2 separate regions of the Homo sapiens genome follow, and region 2 is linked to region 1. Evidence: fine-mapped expression QTL. A gene starts in region 1. The other region holds a variant in brackets. All regions are shown on one strand. Distances are between the middles of the regions. Region 1 holds the start of CARD6 (caspase recruitment domain family member 6). Region 2 has its middle 14 kb from the start of SNORD72.

The links. PIP is the estimated chance that this variant, and not a neighbour inherited with it, causes the effect. A credible set is the group of variants that fine-mapping cannot tell apart.
Region 2: its variant is the best candidate, but not a certain one, in a credible set for the expression of CARD6 in whole blood (TOPMed, PIP 0.64).

What each region holds. Positions count from the first base shown.
Region 1 is chr5:40,838,937-40,844,329 of GRCh38, reverse strand. CARD6 (caspase recruitment domain family member 6) reads right to left here and starts at 2,963. Exons shown (of 3, transcript NM_032587.4): 1 at 2,665-2,963; 2 at 621-1,178. The coding sequence starts at 2,947.
Region 2 is chr5:40,816,495-40,821,887 of GRCh38, reverse strand. No RefSeq gene overlaps it. Among named protein-coding and RNA genes, the nearest start is that of SNORD72, 14 kb to the left of the region's middle. The variant A/G (reference allele first, on the strand shown) is at 2,196.

The sequences.
Region 1 (5,393 bases):
CCTGGGAGGTAGAGGCTGCGGTGAGTCATGATTGTGCCACTGCACTCCAGCCTGAGTGAGACCCTGTTTAAAAACAAATTTTTTTTAAATAAAGAAATATTCAGATTCAAGATACAAATATAATTCTCATCAAGATGGCATTATGTGGACTGGATCAAGCCAAGTAACAATATTTTGGGATCTTAGCCATTTACTGACTGTTTTCACTTAAATAGTCAAACCCATAATCCCCATATCTCTCTGGTCACAAAGGCACTAAAATAACTAAAGTGGTTTAACCTGAGAAATAGGTTAGCCTGAAATTAATGATTAGCAACTCCTCGTACGTATAATGGGAAATTAATGATTGGCAACTCCTTATACGAACTACAGAAATTTACAAACTGACAATCAATATTTACTTTTGCTTATGCTGTCCATCATTTCCTAGGTCCTGGGAGCTCCTTTAAGTCAACACCTACCTCGAGGAGATTCCAGGTCAGAGAGGCACGAGGAATTTCTTAGTAGTTGATTTTCTGCTGACATCTGTCCCTTTTTCATCCCCCATCCCCATTATGTCATGGCAAGCTTATTAACTTATTAAGTTGTTGCCTAACTAACTATACAAGATATTTCCATACCTTCTATACTTTTCTCCTGTTCCTCCTCCAATGAAAGGCTGGTTTCTGATCCCTCATAACTTGGTTCTTCACCAGAGAACTCTGTGGTTTCTGAATTCTCGAAGTCCTCTTCACCATCATATCCAACGTGCTCTGGGTCATCATAAACCTCCTCTTCCACAGTGGCTTCTGCATCTTCAGGGGTGTCAACAGATCCTAGATATTCCTCTTTTCCTAAGTATAAAGAATCATCTAGCTCCTCATATCTCTGTCCATCTTTTATATATGTAATAGTTGCTGGAACTTCACATCCAACTTTCTCAACTGAATATGATAATGTGACTTCTGGTGTGTCATATTCCTTCTCATTCTTCCTGGCAGACAAAGCTGTTTCCCTATAACTAGTTTTCTTGTCCCTGAAAAACTCAGAGGTTTCCAAATCCAAGTGTTCCTTCTCACTGAAGAACACTGTGATCTCAGGGGCTTCAGGCTGTTTTATTCCAGGAGAAAAAGCATCTTCTGAATTACTGCTTGCCCCCATAGATTGAGGAGGTACTGTATTCTCATGTTTTAAAACTTCTGCAAAGAAAAGAATTGTTTTTCCCAATTAAGAAAAAGAAGCTGTATAACAGCTAGAGTTCCTGAGGCCTCAAAGCTTCATCCCTCTCCTTTTATTTATTTATTTATTTTTTGAGACAGAGTTTCACTCTTGTTGCCGAGGCTGGAGTGCAATGGCACGATCTGGGCTCACTGCAACCTCAACCTCCCGGGTTCAGGTGATTCCCCTGCCTCAGTCTCCCAAGTAGCTGGGATTACAGGCATGCGCCATGATGCCCAGCTAATTTTTGTATTTTTAGTAGAGACAGTGTTTCACTATGTTGGTCAGGCTGGTCTCAAACTCCTGACCTCAGGTGATCCATCTGCCCCGGCCTCCCAAAGTGCTGGGATTACAGGTGTGAGCCACAGCGCCCAGCCACCTCTTATTTCACTGGAGGACAGGAATACCTAACACCTCCTATATAACTTGCATGTCAACATGTCAACTTTCAGAACTTTCTTTTTTCCACTAAAAAAAAAAATCAGATCACACCACTGTCTTGCTTAAAGTTTGAGTCCTTCCTAGCAACCTTACAGGGTAAGTGAATAAAACGAAAAATTTGAATCATATGAACAGTGTTTACTTGTGGACTTACTGTGACTCACAACAGACTCACGTCTCTTGGGGTCATTGCTAATGAAATCTGATCACAAATAATTTCTAATCAGTAAGCAAATGGCTCTATTTGGAATAGTGTGCTTTAGAAATAATAAAAGAAAAATTTCTAAGCATATAAATCTTGTCCTAAATTAGGTATCACTAACATTCACCTTTTTATCTGAGCCTCTACCTCTCTAACATCCCTTAAAATAATTTTGAATTTTTTTTTAGATTCCTAGAAAAAGAGCTAGACCTAGTCCTAGTAGTAATTTACAGAATTGCTAAATAACTGGAAGAATTGCTTTTTCATGGACTACTAGTTATCTTTGAACCATTTAAGAATTAGCACTGGAATTGCTCCAGAAAACAGCTGCTGCTGGCATTCTTATCACCAAAAAAATGAAACTACTGATTTGCCATCTATGTGTTAAAAATTATTTTCCTTGTATTTTCAAAACGGCTATACTAAGTGAAAGATACAGCTTGTGGTCTTGGCACTGTAAATATCCACGAATTCATCTACTTGAAAAACAAACCCTGGATTGTGTTATTATTAAAGTATTTTCCTTCCAACTGTGAGATTTTAGCATGTTACTGCCAGAATAATGAGCAGTTTGTTAGCACTAAAACAACTTCAAGTTTTGAGTACAGTCTGAAAAACAAATTATCGATTCAGTAGACCAATAAGATGTTAAATTTCAGAAACTTTTTAAATTCCAGTTTTTCCCTATTTCATATTTCAATGAAAATTATCTCCAGAAAAAGACTAACAAAAATAAAAGGCAACAATTTTCTTTCATTTTGTTTTCTTTTTCAGAAAGTCTGCCCCCTTCCTCTCACCCCAAAAAGTATACAAAGTCAACTTACCATGCCTTAAGCCGCAAATGGCAGCTGACTGTGGAAAAGTACTAAATAAACACTTGAGAAAATGCTGACAGGTCGCCTCTCCCTTTTTCTGTACCAAAATTAACAGCTTCCGACTTTTCTTCAGGAGATCTGTAACATTCTCCAGAGTCTCATACTCTTCCTCAGAAATCAGCCTCCGAGAAGTTAACGTGTCTAAGATAGAATCAGGATCATGTTGAAGGATTTCAAGCAACTTTTTTCTTTCTCTTTCTATGATCTCTGAGGGAGTACTCTCGGTAGCCATTGTTCCTGTTTCCTCTAAACCAGGAAATATATTATGAAATCATCCTAATGAATAAGTAAAAGTTAAAAAAAGAATGACAAAGAACAATTCTATTTGGCTAAGCTTTAACATGTCAATGATGCCTAGTGTTGGAGAGTGCAGATACAAGCACAGTGGGGCAACCCAGCTCGGAGCACTCTCTGATCCGGGGTCCTTGTGGATTATTTATCTGCTCTTTTGAAGTCTTGATAAATTCTCACCATGACTCAGACCCAGGGTCACCTCCTCCAAGAAGTCGCTCTTGAACTTCAGGTTGGACTAGGTATTCCCTGCTCAGAGAACTATACTATGATGCCAAGAATGTAAATTATTAATTGATATTTGGTGGGCAATATGGCAATATACAGCAATAAATAAATAAAGTTGAAGACAGACAAAAATAAAACTTCATATCCTTCAACCCAGCAATTCCAGTTCTAGGAAATTATCTTAAGGAAATAATTGAGCAAATGCCCGAAGATGTATGTACAAGAATCTGCATTACAACATTGTTTACAACAGTACAAAATTGAAAATAACCAAAGTTGGGGTTTAGGGAATAAATATTGACATGTCGACAGTGAAACACCAAAGAACTGTTAAAAAGGATAAAGTACATCTCTACATATTGACAAGTAATGATATCCATGATATATTGCTATGGAAACAGCAAGTTATAGATCTCATTTTTGTTTTAAAAAACTTAATGTGTATATAGTATATGTATATAATATGTATATGCAGATATGCATTATATTTTAAAGAAGACAAGAGATATCCCAAATTTTAACACTGGTTATCTCTGAGAATATGACTACAGGGAGATTTATACTTCCACTTTAAACATTACTATTTAATATTTTACATTTTTGGTTTTTTATTATTATTTATTTTAAGAAAATTACCTGGTTGGTCTTTATTTACTCCTTCATAGTTCACAAGAACCTGAAAGCGATCTGCATAACTAGCAACAGGATACTGGATGAATAAACTGTGATATTTCTTATAACATAATATTACATGGCATTCAAAAAGAATGAACTTCAGTGACCCACAATATAGAGAAATCATAACAATAGTAAGGAAAAACTGTAAATCCCAAAAGATTATATACAGTATGACAACCTTTTTAAAAGTTGAAAATAAACACACCCTTACATTTAAGAGTATACATGAAGTCATTAAAATTATACAAAACAAAAAGCAAAGAATGATAAATATGAAATTCAGAATGATGGTTACCTCGCATATGGGGAGCTTGGGGATGGGATGGGATTGGGGAGGAGATCATGGATGTCCTACAATGTAGGAGTTGGGCCTATCAGGGCTACTATATTGTTAAAGGTAAATAGCTAATATGTAAATAAAAGCAGAACATGCATGAACCAATGCTATTAGGAACCAAGGATAATGAGTAATACAATTCTGGTATCTCCAAGGTTAAAAAAGAATTTTAAAATCCTGGCTGGGCGAGGTGGCTCATGCCTGTAATCCCAGCACTTTGGGAGTCTGAGGAAGATCACTTGAGACCAGGAGTTTGAGGCCAACCTGAGCAACATAGCAAGACCCTGTCTCTACAAAAAATTTAAAAATTATCTGGTCGTGATGGTGCGCATCTGTAGTCCCAGCTGCTTGGGACAGGAGGCTGAGGCAGGAGAGCTGCTTCGGCCCAGAAGTTTGAGGTTGTAGTAAGTTACTCTAGCCTAGGCTCTTAAAAAAAAAAATCCTCATATGATATTAAAAATTAATATTAGGTAAGAGTTTTATAAAATTGAAGAGTTTTAAAATTTTTATTTACTTTGACCAATTATAATCATATATAGTTATGGGATATTCAGTAATTTTATATGTATGCAGTATGGAATGATTCACTCAAATTAACATATACATCACCTTCAATACTTATAATTTATTCCTCCTGTCTGTGACTTTGTATCCTTTGACCAGCACCCTTCCCTTCCCCGCAACTCCCAGCCTCTCTCTGGTAACCACCATTATACTCTAGGTAAGAGTTTTAAAATATGTATCTCAAAAGTATGGCTTTCAAGTGATGCATCCCACCTCATGTCCACAATTTGATTGGCACTGTCATAAAGATTGCCAATTTTTTGTTGTTGTTGTTCAACTTGACCAGGAAGGTACTTTAATAACAGGTGTCCCAAACCACCAGTCTCCTCTCCAATGCTCAACCCTAAATATGCTCCTTTCTCACAGTAACCTTTCTGAGATTTCAAAGCCAATGGGAAAAAAGTGTTCACTTGAAGTGGGAAACTTAGCACTGAAATTTAAACTTCTTTCTACAAGTTTTCCTTTTGTTTTGTTTTGAAACAGAGTCTCACTCTGTTGCCCTGACTGGAGTGCAATGGTGCAATCATAGCTCACAGCAGCCTCAAACTCCTGGGCTCAAGCAATCCTCCCCCCTCAGCTT
Region 2 (5,393 bases), 22 kb after region 1:
AAGATGCCTGCTCCCGCTTTGGCTTCCACCATGAGTAAAAGCTCCTTGAGGCCTCCCCAGAAGCTGAGCAGATGTCGTTGCCATGTTTCCTGTACAGCCTGCAGAGCTATGAGCTAATGAAACCTCTTTTCTTTGTAAATTACCCAATCTCAGGTATTTCTTTATAGAAATGCAAGAATAGCCTAAGAATAATCTACCCAGTTCATGGTATTTTGTTACAGCAGCCCAAACAGACGAAGAATAGTTTTACAACTTGCCTCAGTGATTAATCAGCAAAGTGATTCACTCCCAATCAAAACTTGTTTGAACACTGGTTTGCTAATGATCAAAAATAATTGTCAAGCAGGCAGAATATCCTTGATGACCTGACACACACTTTTTCAACTCTAAAAGGGCATCTTATTTTTGTTTTCTTAAGGAAGTACCTTTCTATGGCTTGCATGAACTGACCAAAGAGGGAAGAAAGTAGGGAATCTTTAACATAGAGCTAGTAGGTAAGGCACACTGTTTAAGATCAGACATAGTGCCTTAGAACACAGCCACACACAGCTTGGTTGATTACATGATACAGCTGATGCAAGTGGGCCTGGACCTGAAACTAGACCTAATAACTAGGAGGAAATTTTGGGAAACATTGGACCAGCATTCCCAAATGCTAAACATGTACACTATCACAAAGACACAATGTTTTACCCATGGAAATTTGTTGCTGTATTATTTATAATACAAGAAAATAGAGCAGCTGTGCTGGGATTACAGGATGTGGTGGCTCATGCCTGTAATCCCAGCACTGTGGGAGGCCAAGGTAGACAGATTGCTTGAACCCAGAAGTTCAAGACCAGCCTGGACAACATGGCGAAACCCCATCTCCACAAAAAATACAAAATTTAGCCAGGCATCATAGCACATACTTGTAGCCCCAGCTACCAGGGAGGCTGAGGTGGCAGGATCACTTGAGCCCAGGAGGTTGAGGCTGCAGCTGTGAGCATGCTACTGCACTCCAACCTGGGTGACAGAGTGAGATTCTGTCTCAAAAAAAAAAAAAAAAAAGAAAAGAAAAAAAGAAAAAGGAAGTAGAAAAGTAGAAACAACTGGCCAGGCGTGGCTCATGCCTGTAATCCCAGAACTTTGGGAAGCCAAGGTGGGTAGATCACTAGAAGACCAGCCTACCCAACATGGTGAAAACCCACATCTCTACTAAAAATACAGAAAATTAGCCGGGCATGGTAGCAGGCACCTGTAATCCCAGCTACTTGGGAGGCTGAGGCAGGAGAATCGTTTGAACACAGGAGGCAGAGCTGCAGTGAGCCGAGATCGCACCATTGCACTCCAGCCTGGGCAACAAGAGTGAAAAGTGAAGGCTGGGCACGGTGGCTCACACCTGTAATCCCAGCACTTTGGGAGGCTGAGGTGGGTGGATCACCTGAGGTCAGGAGTCCAGCCTGGCCAACATGGTGAAAACCCCTCTCTACTAAAAATACCCAAAATTAGCTGGGCGTAGTGGTGGGCACCTGTAATCCCAGCTACTCAGGAGGCTGAGACAGGAGAATCGCTTGAACCCGGGAGGTGGAGGTTGCAGTGAGCTGAGATCATGCCATTGCACTCCAGCCTGGGCAACAAGAGTGAAACTGTGTCTCAAAAAAAAAAAAAAAAAAGAAAAGAAAAGAAAAGAAAAAGAAAAGTAGAAACAACTAAATCCCCTAAGTAGAGGTTGAGGTTGAGTTAAATAAATTATGGCATATCTTAATGGAATAGTAAAACAGCTCTTCAAACAAACAAACAAACAAACAAACAAAAACAACCAAGGCTTTACTAGCTTCAGTAGTCAAGATAGTGAGTATTGGTGTAATAATAGATATATACACCAGTGAAACATAATGGAATCCAGATATAGGCTCACAGAAATATGGTCATTGATTTTTGACAAAGATGTCAAGGTAATTCAATCAAGAAAGGATAATCTTTTCAGCAAATTGTACTGGAACAACTAGACATCCATATGCAAAAATAAAATAAAAATAGAGTCTCTGTTCTGAGACTTAACAGAGTTAAATAAATAAATAAGTAGAATCTCTGCATGGAACTGCAGGTGAACAGAAAAAATATTTTTAATAAAATTAAAAGACTCTCAAACCTTGACTTGTACCACTAAGTCAGGATGGATCAACGATATAAATGTAAAACCTAAAATTCTA[A/G]AAACCTATGAGAAAAACAGGAGAAAATCTTTGTGACTTAGGGTTAGGCAAAGATTTCTTAGATACGACATAAAAAGCACTATCTATTTTTTTAAATGATAAATTGGGCTTTATCACAACTAAACTCTCTGTTTTCCAAAAGACACAAGAAAATAAAAAGGTTTGGAGAAAATATATAAATACATGTATGATATGTATATATATATATATATATATATACACATACATATCACTTGAACCTGGGAGGCGGAGGTTGCAGTGAGTGGAGATCATGCCACTGCACAGAGTGAGACTCCATCTCAAAAAAAAAAAAAAAGAAAAGAAAACAAAAAACATTTTTTTTTTTTTTGAGACAGAGTCTCACTCTGTCACCCAGGCTGGAGTGCAGTGGCATGATCTCGATCTCGGCTCACTGCAAGCTTTGCCTCTTGGGTTCACGCCATTCTCCTGCCTCAGCCTCCTGAGTAGCTGGGACTACAGGCACCTGCCACCACACCCGGCTAATTTTTTTTTTGTATTTTTAGTAGAGACGGGGTTTTACCGTGTTAGCCAGGACGGTCTCGATCTCCTGACCTCATGATCCATCCGCCTCGGCCTCCCAAAGTGCTGGGATTACAGGCGTGAGCCACCGAGCCTGGCCAAAACCAATTTTTTTAAATGGGCAAAATATCTGAACAGATAGTTCATCAAATAATAAATATGCATGGCAAATAAACAGATGCAAAGATGCTCAACATCATTAGTCCTTAGGGAAATGCAAATTGAAATACAATGGAATAATATTGCACATCTACTAGAATGGCTAAAATAAAAAATATACAATGACAATATCAAGTGCCAATGAGAAATTCTTTGCTGGTAGAAATGAAAAATGATACGGCCACTTTGAAAAAAATTTGGCTGTTTCTCACAATTCGCAATTGCAAAGATAACCAACTTAAGTGCCCATCAACCAACGAGTGGATAAAGAAAATGTGTTTTATATACACAGTAGAATACTACTCAGCCATAAAAAGGAATGAAATAATGTCTTTTGCAGCAACTTGGATGGAGCTAGTGGCCATTATTCTAAGTGAAGCAACTCAGGAATGAAAAACCAAATATATGTTCTCACTTATAAGTGGCAGCTAATCTATGAGGATGCAAAGGCATAAGAATGATGTAATGGACTTTGGGGACTTATCAGGGAAGTTCAGGAGGAAAATTAGGTATAAAAGACTGTATATTGGGTACACTGTACACTGCTTGGGTGATGGGTGCGTTAAAGTTTCAGAAATCACCACTAAAGAATGTATCCATGTAACCAGAAACCACCTGGACCCTAAAAACTATTGAAATAAAAAATTTTTAATGCGGCTGTTTCTTATAAAGTGAACAATACATTTACTATACAACCCCAGCAATCCCACTCTTAACTATATCTACTCGAGAAGAATGAAAACACAGTCTTGTGTGTGAATGTTTATAGAAGGCTATTCCTGCTCCAAGAACTGGAAACAACTTAAACATTGTAAGTAGAGAATGGACAAATTTTGGTATATGCATACAATGGAATACTATTCATCAATAAAAATAAATGAACTACTGATACATGCAACACAATATGGATGAGTCTCAAAACAAAAGGATTATGCTAAGTGAAAGGAGTTGGATACAAAAGGCTGCATACTGTACAGGTCCTTTTTTTTTTTTTTTTTTTTTTTTTTTCAGACAGAGTCTTGCTGTGTCTCCCAGGCTGGTGTGCAGTGCAGTGGCAAGATCTTGACCCACTGCAGCCCCCGCCTCCTGGATTCAAGCAATTCTCCTGCCTCAGCCTCTGGAGTAGCTGGGATTACAGGTGCTCACCACCATGCCCACCTAATTTTTGTATTTTTAGTAGAGATAGGGTTTCACCATATTGGCCAGGCTGGTCTTGAACTATTTTTTTTTTTTTTGAGATGGAGTCTCACTCTGTTGCCCAGGCTGGAGTACAATGGTATGATCTCGCTCATTGCAACTTCTGCCTCCTGGGTTCAAGCAATTCTCCTGCCTCAGCCTCCCTAGTAGCTAGGATTACAGGCACCCACGACCAGGCCCGGCTAATTTTTGTATTTTTAGTAGAAACGGGATTTTGCCATGTTGCCCAGGCTGGTCTCCAACTCCCGACCTTTGGGATCTGCCCGCCTTGGCCTCCCAAAGTGCTGGGATTACAGGCGTGAGCCACCACGCCCAGCCTGGTCTCGAACTCTTGACATCAAATGGACCACCTGCCTTGGCCTCCCAAAATGCTGGGATTATAGGCATGAGCCACTGTACCTGGCCACAATTCTCTTTATATGACATTCTGAAGAAGGCAAAACTAGAGGGACAGAAATCAAAAAGGCATAAGGGAATGTTTTTGGGTGATGGAGGTATTTCATATCTTTATTATGGAATTTACACAACTATATACAGTTTCTTTTCTTTTTTCTTTCTTTTTTTTTTTTTGAGATGGAGTTTTGCTCTTGTTGCCCAGGCTGGAGTGCAATGGCGCAATCTCAGCTCCCCGCAACCTCCACCTCCCGGGTCCAAGTGATTCTCCTGCCTCAGCCTCCCTAGTAGCTGGGATTACAGGCATGTGCCACCACATCTGGCCAATTTTATATTTTTAGTAGAGAGGGGTATCTCCATATTGGTCAGGCTGGTCTCGAGCTCCTGACCTCAGGTGATCTGCCCGCCTTGGCCTCCAAAAGTGTGGGATTACAGGCATGAGCCACTGCACCTGGCCACAACTATATACATTTTTTGAAGCTCATAGAACTCTACACCTAGGCCAGGCAGGGTGGCTCAAATCTGTAATCCTAGCACTTCGGGAGGCCGAGGCAGGAGGATTACTTGTGCTCAGGAGTTCGAGACCAGCCTGAGCAACAATGTGAGACTCCGTCTTTACTTAAAAAAAAATTAATAAAATATATATACACACACACACATATATATATATACACATATATATATACACACATATATATACACATACATATATATATATAAAACTCTACACTTAGGGTGAATTTTACTGTATGTAAATTATACTTCAGTAAACTTAACTTTGAAAAGAAAGAATAAGAGAAATTAGAAGACGATGGAGCAATACCTTCAAAATTCTGAAGGAAATGTTTTCCAACTTAAAACCCTATATATATATATATCCAGCCAAACTATAAAGTGTAAGAATAGAAT